Linked DNA regions of Homo sapiens: region 2 is linked to region 1. The links come from fine-mapping of genetic effects on gene expression. A gene starts in region 1. The other region holds a variant in brackets. All regions are shown on one strand. Distances are from middle to middle.

The links. PIP is the estimated chance that this variant, and not a neighbour inherited with it, causes the effect. A credible set is the group of variants that fine-mapping cannot tell apart.
Region 2: its variant is the best candidate, but not a certain one, in a credible set for the expression of ATP1A1 in monocytes after Pam3CSK4 (Quach 2016, PIP 0.78).

What each region holds. Positions count from the first base shown.
Region 1 is chr1:116,370,584-116,375,959 of GRCh38, forward strand. ATP1A1 (ATPase Na+/K+ transporting subunit alpha 1) reads left to right here and starts at 2,661. Exons shown (of 23, transcript NM_000701.8): 1 at 2,661-2,940. The coding sequence starts at 2,929. RefSeq lists silencers at 2,288-2,817, 3,248-3,547 and an enhancer at 3,918-4,037.
Region 2 is chr1:116,394,004-116,399,344 of GRCh38, forward strand. It overlaps ATP1A1 (ATPase Na+/K+ transporting subunit alpha 1), which reads left to right. Exons shown (of 23, transcript NM_000701.8): 13 at 1,107-1,282; 14 at 2,595-2,731; 15 at 3,885-4,035; 16 at 4,618-4,786; 17 at 4,927-5,081. The region is part of intron 2 of ATP1A1-AS1 (ATP1A1 antisense RNA 1); the gene reads right to left. Among named protein-coding and RNA genes, the nearest start is that of ATP1A1-AS1, 22 kb to the right of the region's middle. The variant C/CTTT (reference allele first, on the strand shown) is at 2,273.

The DNA.
Region 1 (5,376 bases):
TCCAAATTTGTCCCCTGCACTGGAGTTAGAAAAGCTACCTGAAAGTCTTGCCACTATTCTTGGAATATTCAATACCAATTACTCCCTGGGCCTCAGTTTCTTCATCATAAAATGAGGGAGCTTGATGTTTCATCTATAAGGTTTCATTTCATTCAGAAGCCACTCTTCCAAGGGAAGAAAAGAAGGCTTTTTCTTAAAAAAAAAAAAAAAAAAGGACTTTTCCTCCTTTGCTTACCCATTTTCCAAGGTGTCTCTCTCATATCTGAGATTTCCTTCTGCGCCTCAGACTTGGTCATGCCTTACCTTTTTCTTTACCTCAAAGACTTGTGAGAATTCAAGGGCACTGTGCATCTGAAATTACTGTGTGGCATCAAAAGCAAAATACAGATTTAAGATAATGTTTCTTATATTTTTTGCCCTTTCTTCACACCGGAACACAGCTAGAACTCTGGGATCCTCCTGAAAGGACCTTCAGCAATTTTCAGTTGCCAAATAAATAGCTCTAGATACAAAGGGAAGTGCCTTGATCTATCAGGGTTATTTTGTTGAGTGAATGAATGAGAATTTTACTTATGAGGGGAGAAAAAGGAGATCAGCTGGCAGGAGAAATCTACGTTGTTCCGACCCGTGCTTTATATATTTAGTTGTTGCCGCGGCACTTTTCCCATTCAGACCAGGGCCCAAGGAGTAATTAATCTTTGTTTTTATTTTTATTTATTTATTTTTTTGAGATGGATCCTCACTCTGTCACCAGGCTGGAGTGCAGTGGCGCCATCTCAGCTCACTGCAACCTCCGATTCTGTGGTTCAAGCGAATCTCCCGCCTCAGTCTCCCGAGTAGCTGGGATTACAGGCATGTGCCACTACGCCCAGCTAGTTTTTTTTTGTATTTTTAGTGGAGACGGGGTTTCACCAGGTTGGCCAGGATGGTCTTGATCTCCTGACCTCATGATCCGCCCGCTTCGGCCTCCCAAAGTGCTGGGATTACAGGCGTGAGCCACAGTGCCTGGCCCAGGAGTAATTAATCTTAAACAAGCTATCTTTAGCAAGCAAAAGCATCTTACAAAGTACAGTAACTGAGGCTATCAAGCATGTAAAGAAAGCATTTTCTAGAAGCTTAGAGATGGATCCCCGAACACTCTGTAACCCTCTGTTAACAGTCTAAGGAATTCTGTTCTGAATTTGGGGGCTCTTCTCCAGGCAGTCAGGGTTTTGAATTCTATTTACAATTCCTCTGCTCTCTATGGCCTAGAATGATTGAACCAAGTCTCTAGATCACTGTAGGAGACATCAACCTTTAACAATACATTCTTGAGGAGAAGAGACTCGTGTAAGAAACTATCTTGTAAGAAGGGATGAGAATTACCCTAATGATGTAACTGACAACACAGTTTCTAGTTTTTCCTTTCTTTCCTTCCTTCTCCATTTTTTCCAGTTTCATATCCTTGTTTGTTCATGCTACATGAATACTTGAAGTTGATAGAGTTGGCTTTAACTTAGGAACCTTTGCTTAGAAAGTCAATATCCTGGCCTTTCCCAGAGTACTTGACTTCCTGCAAACCTTGTTAATAATACTTTGTTTTTTAAAATGTTGGAGAACTTCAGCCATTGCAGCCTCTTGCTAAGAAGCAAAAGCTATAATGACAGAGAAGCCCCAAAGTGCAGTGGAACCAGGGATCTCCGGGGAGAGTGGTGGTTTCCTGGGCCCCCCCAGAGAACCCAAGGCTGTGCTGGAGATGCTGCCGTGACAGGTGGAGGCGTGGAGAGGCACCTGGCAAGTCCTCAAACGCCTCCCCCTTGATTTAGCTCCTCTAGCTAAGGATACGCATTCCTTTGGGTTTCAGGTTTTTCTTCCCTAAAAAGAGAATCCCCAAACTGGACAAGCAGGTTACATTCACACAATAGCGTGAATGAATTCGCTGGTCGCCCTTCAGATTCTCATTTTGGAATCTCGAAGAAAGAGAGGTGGTGGGAGGAGGGCGCTTGAAACTTCTGGCGATGCCAGTTCAGATCGATTCCAGCTATGACGGAGCGGGAAGTGGATAAAGAGGACCCCAAGTCACAGGAGGCACTCTGAGAGCACCAAGCGCCCGGGGAGGCCATCCGCAGGTGGGCGCGGGGCCTGGATTCCACAGAGGGGCGGAGTCCCTCAGTCAGGCGCTGGCTGCAATCACACCCGAGCGCCAGCCCCCTCCAGCATCCCTGAGTCCCAGAGGAGATCGCCGAAGCGCTGGAAAAGCCGTTCCGCCCACGACTTCTGGTGCCGGGTCGGCGGCGACTGGGGGAGCCCAGTTCCGAGACCGTACCGCACCCACTGCGGACCTCCTGGGCCCTACATAGTAGGCGGGTCATGCAGGGCAGCGGGAGGAGGGGCGTGGGAGGGCCAAGGCCGCCGAGTCCCCGCTGTTCAGCCAGCAGGAGCGCCCCGCAGCCCTCCCGGGACACGGTGGACACGCTTGTCCCAGACCTGGGCGCCCTCCTGCCGGGAGCCAGGACTGGCCGCAGCAGGCGCTGTCCGGGCCCGTGGGCGGGGTTTCGGGAGGGGGCGGAGCCAGGCCCACGGCCGGTGTCAGGTTGCTCCGGTAACGGTGACGTTTCGCGGCGTGGGCGGGGCCAGCACGCAGGTTGCATATTTTAGGAAGTGAGGAGGAGGCGCGGGCTGGAGCTGCGGCGGGGTCTGGGGCGCAGAGCAGCGGCGGGAGGAGGCGGACACGTGGCAACAGCGGTAGCAGCCCGGGCGGCGGCAGCAACAGCGGCGGCGGCATCGGCCCGAGCCGCCGGCCGCCCTCCCACCCTCCCGCCCCGCGGCAGCCCTAGCTCCCTCCACTTGGCTCCCCTGGTCCCGCTCGCTCGGCCGGGAGCTGCTCTGTGCTTTTCTCTCTGATTCTCCAGCGACAGGACCCGGCGCCGGGCACTGAGCACCGCCACCATGGGGAAGGGGGTGAGTGTCCGGCGCGCCCGGGGAGGGGGCTCGGGGAGCCCTCGAGGGGAAGAGGAGGAAGTCGGGAGGGCGACCGCGGCCAGCGGGAGGCGGCGGAGGAGGAAGCGGCGCCGCGTGGAGTGGGCTGGCAGAGCCGCGCGGCTTAAAAGACGACGCAGTTTGGAAATGGAGGGAGCGCAGTAACGGGGGGCGGGGGAAGGGAGCGCCGAGGGGCTGGAGCGCGGCATTGCTTAGGGGGGTGGGCGGACCCTGGGCGGGGGCTGCGCGCCCCGGAGGCCGAGCGGGCCGGGGGCTCCGAGAGGCGGTGCTTGGGAAGCCTCGGGGCCGGGAGGAGGGGGCTTGCAGCAGCGGGGGCGGCCCCGGGACTGAGCCGGCATCCCTGAGCCTGGCTCCCCTCCCTGCGACCGCCGTCACCTCCTTCTCCTTCCTTTTCCCTCCGCCCTCCGTGCCCTGAGGAAAGGCGCGCTCCTCCCCTTCCCCTGGGGCGCTCCGCCGGGGCCTCCTCCCGGGCCTCCGTTCCCGCCGCGGCCCCGGTTCCGGCGGGGGCAGCCTCCGGGTTCGGGGCTCCTTCTCCTGGGGACGCTGGGGCTTAGCTTGCTCCGCGCAGAGGCGGCCGCCCTCCCCCAAAGAAAAAACTGGCTGCTTCTAAGTGCGAAGCCGGCTGGGCGGGCTGGTGCCAGAAAGGGTGTGTCTTCACTGCCCTAAGATGGCCTTTAAGGTATACTTTTGAGGGCTTTCTTGGGCCACTTTCCGTAAACACAGGATGCACCGATGGCAACTGGAGTTGTCATCCGATGGTGGGGAGAGGCGTGCAGATTTTTTTTGAAGGGACGAGCCCTGAAGGAGGATAGGCAGACCCACCAGGGCCTCAGGGTACAAGAAACCCGAAAAAGGACTGGAGGCTGCAGGCAATACGGTGGTAGGAATCTCTGCCGGTTTCCAGCGTCGCGGAAGCACCAAAGGGCGGTCCCTGAAGGAAACGAGGGGTCTTGGGGCTGGAGAGCGGCGCGGAGCGTGGTGGGAATATCGTCACAACGCCGCTGTCCTACATTTCTGTAGCGAAGACTTGATTACCCCTAGCTATTACCCGTGCAGGAGACTGGGCCCTGGACCCCAAATGAGCCAAAGTCTAGTTGAGAAAAATTTACACAGAATAACCTCGGAGTTCATGGGGTGAAAGTGACCATGTCATGAGAATACAAATGGGAGAGAATCCACTTCGTTGTCTCCAGGGTTTAGCACAGTGCAGACACTGAGTAGGTCTTTGAAGGCCCTGAGGCTTCTGGGTGTAGACAGAGTGTCGGGAGCAGAGGGAGGCTGCACTCCTTGGGGACTCTAAGGGAGTTTTAAAGGAGGTAATTGAAAGGCTTGGACCTGGTGGGGAGAACAGGCACAAGTGGAAATGCACAACTCGCCTCGCTTTTAAAAGCATGCAGCGTGGAGGGCTGGTCCAGGTCAGGTGGCATCAAAGAGCGGAGTACAGGGCCTCTCCATTCCCCTGATGGAGTCTGGGTTAGTGGCCTGTGCTTTTACCACACCGTCAAACCCTTGATCATTTCTGTAAACATGCACTTTAAAGCTCATTCTTTGTCTCTCCTGCCTTAAAAGAAAAAGAAAAAAGTTTACTTCCTGAGCTAATTTTGGGGGGTTTAGACATCACAGATGTGTGCCCCAAGCCTAGGAAGGTGAAGTGACTTGCTCAAGGTCAAACGGTTGGCTAGTGACAGACTAGGCGTCCCTGATTCTTGAACAGCCTGTGGCCTCAAGCCTGAACATGCATTTACTCTTTAACATTGAGTTCTTTATACAGAACTCAGAACTTCGGATGAAACGGGGTATTTGTGATGTTGAATTAATAGGCCATGGAGATGGTTTGGGTAACTAAGTTATGTCCATTTATCTAGATGTCTCCTTTATAACCACACACAGGCACACATGCACAGTAGTGATGCGGTGGTAACCCACCTGAATAGTTAGTAGAGCTTAAACCCAGATGTCTTACAACAAAATGTATAGTGGCTAGCAAACACAAGATTAAATTACAGCTGCGAACACTGGGATGATGAGCTGCTTGGCTGCTGGGTGGTAGTTAGCATTTTGAGTATTCTGATACATTAAACATTAGTTTACTTGTGTGTGTGTTTGTGTGTGTGTTTGTCCTGTGACTTATTGTGAGCGTCCAAATGTTCAGAAGAATATTTCATGTTGGGATTTTTCCACATGGGGATTAAAATGTGGGTGGAGAGTGACTAAAGCCCTGCTGATAATTGGCTAACAAGGAAGCCTGTGCCGGCAGCTAATTTTTAAGGTCATTGTAAATTTCTTCCCCTCCTCTCCTCAGTACCCTTTGTGGCCTAGCTTTTGATGATATTTCAGGTGATTTTATATGTCCTTAAAAGTCTAGTTCCTAAGCATTTGGTAAGAAAATGAAAGAAC
Region 2 (5,341 bases), 23 kb after region 1:
TGTTTAAAAAAAAAAATGGTGGAAGAATATCTTTCTTATCTAACCTTTGTTGCTGTGGACATGACTTATAAGCCTAATTAAAGTTAATTAATTCTTAGTGTGTCTAAGTTAGACATACTATTTCCTGACTGCCTTGGAATGGGTGTGAATTTACATGAGCACTTATGTGCTCAGCTTAGAAACTAGACTAACGGTAAACTTTTAGTCTAAGATGCTACCTATTTTTTTCTACCCTGACAGCTACTGAGGCTGAGAAGTTCACTTTACCCATTGTCTAATGTATTTGGGAAAGTGGCATTTATAATACTTTGTAGGTTGACAGATACTACATTCATTATTTATATAATGCTTCCTATTCTTCTTAACTTGGGTAAATCTAACTCATGGTATCTTTCGTATGTGTCTATCCAACCGAAGGATTGCTATCTTCTCTTTAAGTGTTTTTCACTTCCCTACTTCCACCACCCCAAAGTGGAAGCAGTCTCTCTTCTTTTGAGTCCACATGGCACGTTAAAGATCATTGTAACGTCATACAACATTGAAAAGAATGTCTTACATTATCTTGATTCTTGTATTTACTATACTAGATGATAAACCCCCTGGGCAGAATGCATCTGATCTGTACTTATCCTCAAAAGTAGCTAGCATGATGTCCCACATTGGTGCTCAGTAATATGTTTCAGTTAAATGAACAAGAGAGCAGAGGTATGGCCTTGATGTTTCCAGAGAAGGCAGCTGAGGCAGATAATTCCATGATTTGCCAAATCCAAATAACTTAATGTCATCATCAGTGGGCAAGTCTAGAACCCTAATATCCTGGTGCTCAAAATTAGTGTTATCAATTCAGTCTTCTCCACATTAAACAATTTCCAATTCCTTTGAGGCCTGGTGTGATGGATTCTGTCTTTCAAATGCTTTTTTTCTTTCAGTGACTCTATCGTTCATAAATGTTAAATAAAACCCTCACTCTGTTATAAAAATATAGACTTTAAAAATTTTCCAAAGTAAACACTCCAGAGAAAGGTAGGCGGGCTGAATAGGCTGCTGTTGTCCTTCTTACTGCCCAGCGTCACTGAAATTTTCAAAGGCTCCTGTCCTCCTCGCAGGTTTCTGCCACCTCTTTCTGCCAGATGAACAGTTTCCTGAAGGGTTCCAGTTTGACACTGACGATGTGAATTTCCCTATCGATAATCTGTGCTTTGTTGGGCTCATCTCCATGATTGACCCTCCACGGGCGGCCGTTCCTGATGCCGTGGGCAAATGTCGAAGTGCTGGAATTAAGGTAGTGCCCAGGCGCCTCCTTGGCTTCATCTCTTAGTGCCTTGGGACACCCTACTCAGTGAATGTTGCCTTTTGAGGTCCAGATGGCCAGCTGTTCTATCTCACCTGGAGTATTAATTTCTCATCTCCAAAGCTTTACTTCCACCCAGAAAAGACCAGATAGTATTAAAATATGATGGTGTAAACACACGAGGAATTAAAAATTTTTTGGAAAGCAATTGTGTAAAAAAGAAATGTAAGCAAAGTAAAAACAGCAAAAGACTTGAAGTTTTAAAATACTTGCATTATTCTAAGTTAATGTACCTTATGCAATGAATGGCATATCTTCTGTGTTTTCAGTTAACTGTTTGTTAATGAGTGTTTGGTGTCCTCTGTGTATCTGTCTTTTTTTAAGTAGCTGAATATTACTCAAGTGCACTAATATCCTGTTGCTGGGTATTTGGTTTCTGTTTTTTACTCTCAGGATTTTATTTTATTTATTTTTTGAGACAGAGTCTTGCTCTATTGCCCAGGCTGGAATGTCATAGCACGATCTCGGCTCACTGCAACCTCCGCCTCCCAGGTTCAAGCAATTCTCCTGCCCCAGCCTCCCAAGTAGCTGGAATTACAGGCACCCGCTACCACGCCCAGCTAATTTTTGTATTTTTAAGTAAAGATAGGGTTTCGCCACGTTGGCCAGGCTGGTCTCAAACTCCTGACCTCAGGTGATCTGCCCACCTCAGCCTCCCAAAGTGCTGGGGTTACAAGCGTGAGCCACCACACCCGGCCTACTCTCAGGATTAATACTGCCCTGAAAAGCTTTGTAGAAGTTATTTCCTCACCATTCCGACTGCTTCTTTTTAAAGTATATTCTAAGTATAATCACTGCATCAAAAAATAACAATTTTGAATTCTTGTCACATGTTGCTTTTCCTCCAAGTTGTGCCAATTTGAGAATGCTAGCCAGTAGCATGTGGTGTCTTCACAGTCCCACCAGCATCAGATTTTTATC[C/CTTT]TTTTTTTTTTTTTTTTTTTTTGCTGGTTTTAGTAATTTTCAAGTATTTTTATGTAACTCTGTAGAAGGAAAAATAGACATTGTGTATGCTAGTGATTGTATACCAAGATAAAACCTGAGTATTGCCTTTGTGTTTCCTTTCTGTGGATATATATGTTTATATTTTTGGCTAATCGATGTTTATTAGTTTTATATTTGCATTCCTTTCCTTTTGATAGTCTAAGCCGAATCATCCTTAGTATTTACTCTTGCCTACTGGATATAAGACTTTAAGGTCATTTACTTGGCAGTTGCATTCAACACATTGTCTTGTTTATTACAGGTCATCATGGTCACAGGAGACCATCCAATCACAGCTAAAGCTATTGCCAAAGGTGTGGGCATCATCTCAGAAGGCAATGAGACCGTGGAAGACATTGCTGCCCGCCTCAACATCCCAGTCAGCCAGGTGAACCCCAGGTAAGGCAGGAAGCTCAAATCACAGTCTGCTGTGAACAAGCAAATAGTGATGGTTTAAAATCTTCAGCGTGGTTCTATAATGGTTTGCATCTAGGCTTGCTCTGAGTAGGAAATGTACCTGCACTGCCAGAAAGCAACCTTGTCATTCCTAAGAAGGGTTTTAAGTAAGAGCAAGTCATAATAATTAGCACTTAGATGGTATTTACTGTTCTAAGAGCTTGATATGGTGACCTATTATTTGCAGAGCAGGGAAGGTAAGGATTCAAGAGGCTTTTGAAGTACCTCAGAACTGGTGAAATCATGCAGTAAATTCAGCAGTCTAGCTTCTGATTTCATGCTGTTAACCACTGAGCTCTACTGCCTAGCACCTAGCATCTTGACACTTTCCAGGTCCACACTAACAAAATAAAATAAGGAAGGGACAATTACTTAGGCCATTCAGGCAAACACAGGAGACATTTGGCAATGAAGTAAAACAGATAATAGCAAATTGGTTTTGTTTTAAGGTTTAGGGCCCTTTCACCCTATGTTACGGTTAGAGGAGGGTTTGGTCTTGTATCAGCTCTGCCACTTTCTAAAACTTGGTTATATTTCTTTTTTTCTTTGATGGAGTCTCGCTCTGTCATCCCGGTTGGAGTGCAGTGTCATGATCTTGGCTCACTGCAACCTCCACCTCCTGAGTTCAAGTGATTCTCCTGCCTCAGCCTCCCAAGTAGCTGGGATTACAGGCCCCAACCACCATGCCCGGCTAATTTTTGAATTTTTAGACCACCATTTTGGCAAGCTGGTCTCGAACTCCTGACCTCAAGTGATCCACTCACCTCAGCCTCCCAAAGTGCTGGGATTACAGGCATGAGCCACACACCCAGCTAAAACTTGGTTATATTTCAGCATGTCTAATAAAGATAGGGAAAGGAAGAATACAGACAGGCCTGCCTTAGAGATCATCATGAGCCTCAAATGAGATAAAATATATGAAAATGCTCTGTAACCTGTAAAGTACTGAACACTTAATAGCTTTTATGTGCTGGGGAAAATTCCTTCTTTGTTTTGTTTACAAAGTGATCTGCATAAGAATATCCCCTCTTGAGGTGATGGACACATGCTGGTGATGTGATGCGTGACTTTTTTTTTTTTTTTGTCCTAATTCTAGGGATGCCAAGGCCTGCGTAGTACACGGCAGTGATCTAAAGGACATGACCTCCGAGCAGCTGGATGACATTTTGAAGTACCACACTGAGATAGTGTTTGCCAGGACCTCCCCTCAGCAGAAGCTCATCATTGTGGAAGGCTGCCAAAGACAGGTCAGCCAGCACAAGGATCAGGCTGCTTTGGGCACTATTGGCTTTAGGGATTGGAGTTCCAGTGGAAACAGAGCAACGGTGATGGATGGATGCATACCTCGCTGTATTAGACTCAGTATAAATAGGCCAGTAGGAAGCTCATAGGCATAGAGAGGGTGACTTGTTAATGGTTTAGCAGTGACAGAAGCACTTTAAAGTCCAGGTGTCCACTGTGTCCCAGAGCCTGACCGCTCCGTGGAGTCATCTGATATGGGGTCCTAGTATTTGCAATAGAGATGTGAGTGGTCAGACTACAGGGCGTGCATACAGGAATGGCATTTTCTGGAGTGCCACCCACCAGAGTCATTACTTTGAGTAGCTCTTGTTAATGCTGGGGGCTATGTTTGTTGTCACTTCTCAGTTCTGTTATTTGGTGTAGGGCCTGTGTGAATACTTGCCTGTGACGGTTCTCAGGCTTCATAAATAGTCTCAATAGGAAAGGAGCAGTGTCTGTAATGAGTGCTCAGTGGGGGCATGCATCGCACTATTTCCATCGCTAGGAAAAGTGATTGGTATTAACCCGTTTTCCCTTTTCTGGGGTAGGGTGCTATCGTGGCTGTGACTGGTGACGGTGTGAATGACTCTCCAGCTTTGAAGAAAGCAGACATTGGGGTTGCTATGGGGATTGCTGGCTCAGATGTGTCCAAGCAAGCTGCTGACATGATTCTTCTGGATGACAACTTTGCCTCAATTGTGACTGGAGTAGAGGAAGGTGAGAGCTATTTAAGGTGTACACCAAGATCTTATTCAGATACTGCCCATTAGCATCCATTTCTGTATACTTCTTGGATATGTTCAGTTTCCAGTGTGCTTGTCTCATAAGCTAACAGTAAAAAATCTTGGTTTTCATAGGTCGTCTGATCTTTGATAACTTGAAGAAATCCATTGCTTATACCTTAACCAGTAACATTCCCGAGATCACCCCGTTCCTGATATTTATTATTGCAAACATTCCACTACCACTGGGGACTGTCACCATCCTCTGCATTGACTTGGGCACTGACATGGTGAGTGTCACAACAGTCACAGATCGATAGTAGTGAGGTGTGAGCTGTGTCTTCATTCACTGGCACTATGCTCCCAGCATCCATGAGGCTGGCGTTGGGAAAAGAAATTCTCAGGACCAGTATCCAGTGTGTGTCCCAATCCCGGCTTCACAGAATCAGTATTACCACTCTTCAAGGCAGCAGTTAACATTTGTTTATCAGATGGGAATCTTTATTTTTGTATACTTCACCTAAAAGATTTTTAAATGGGAGGGCAAGAA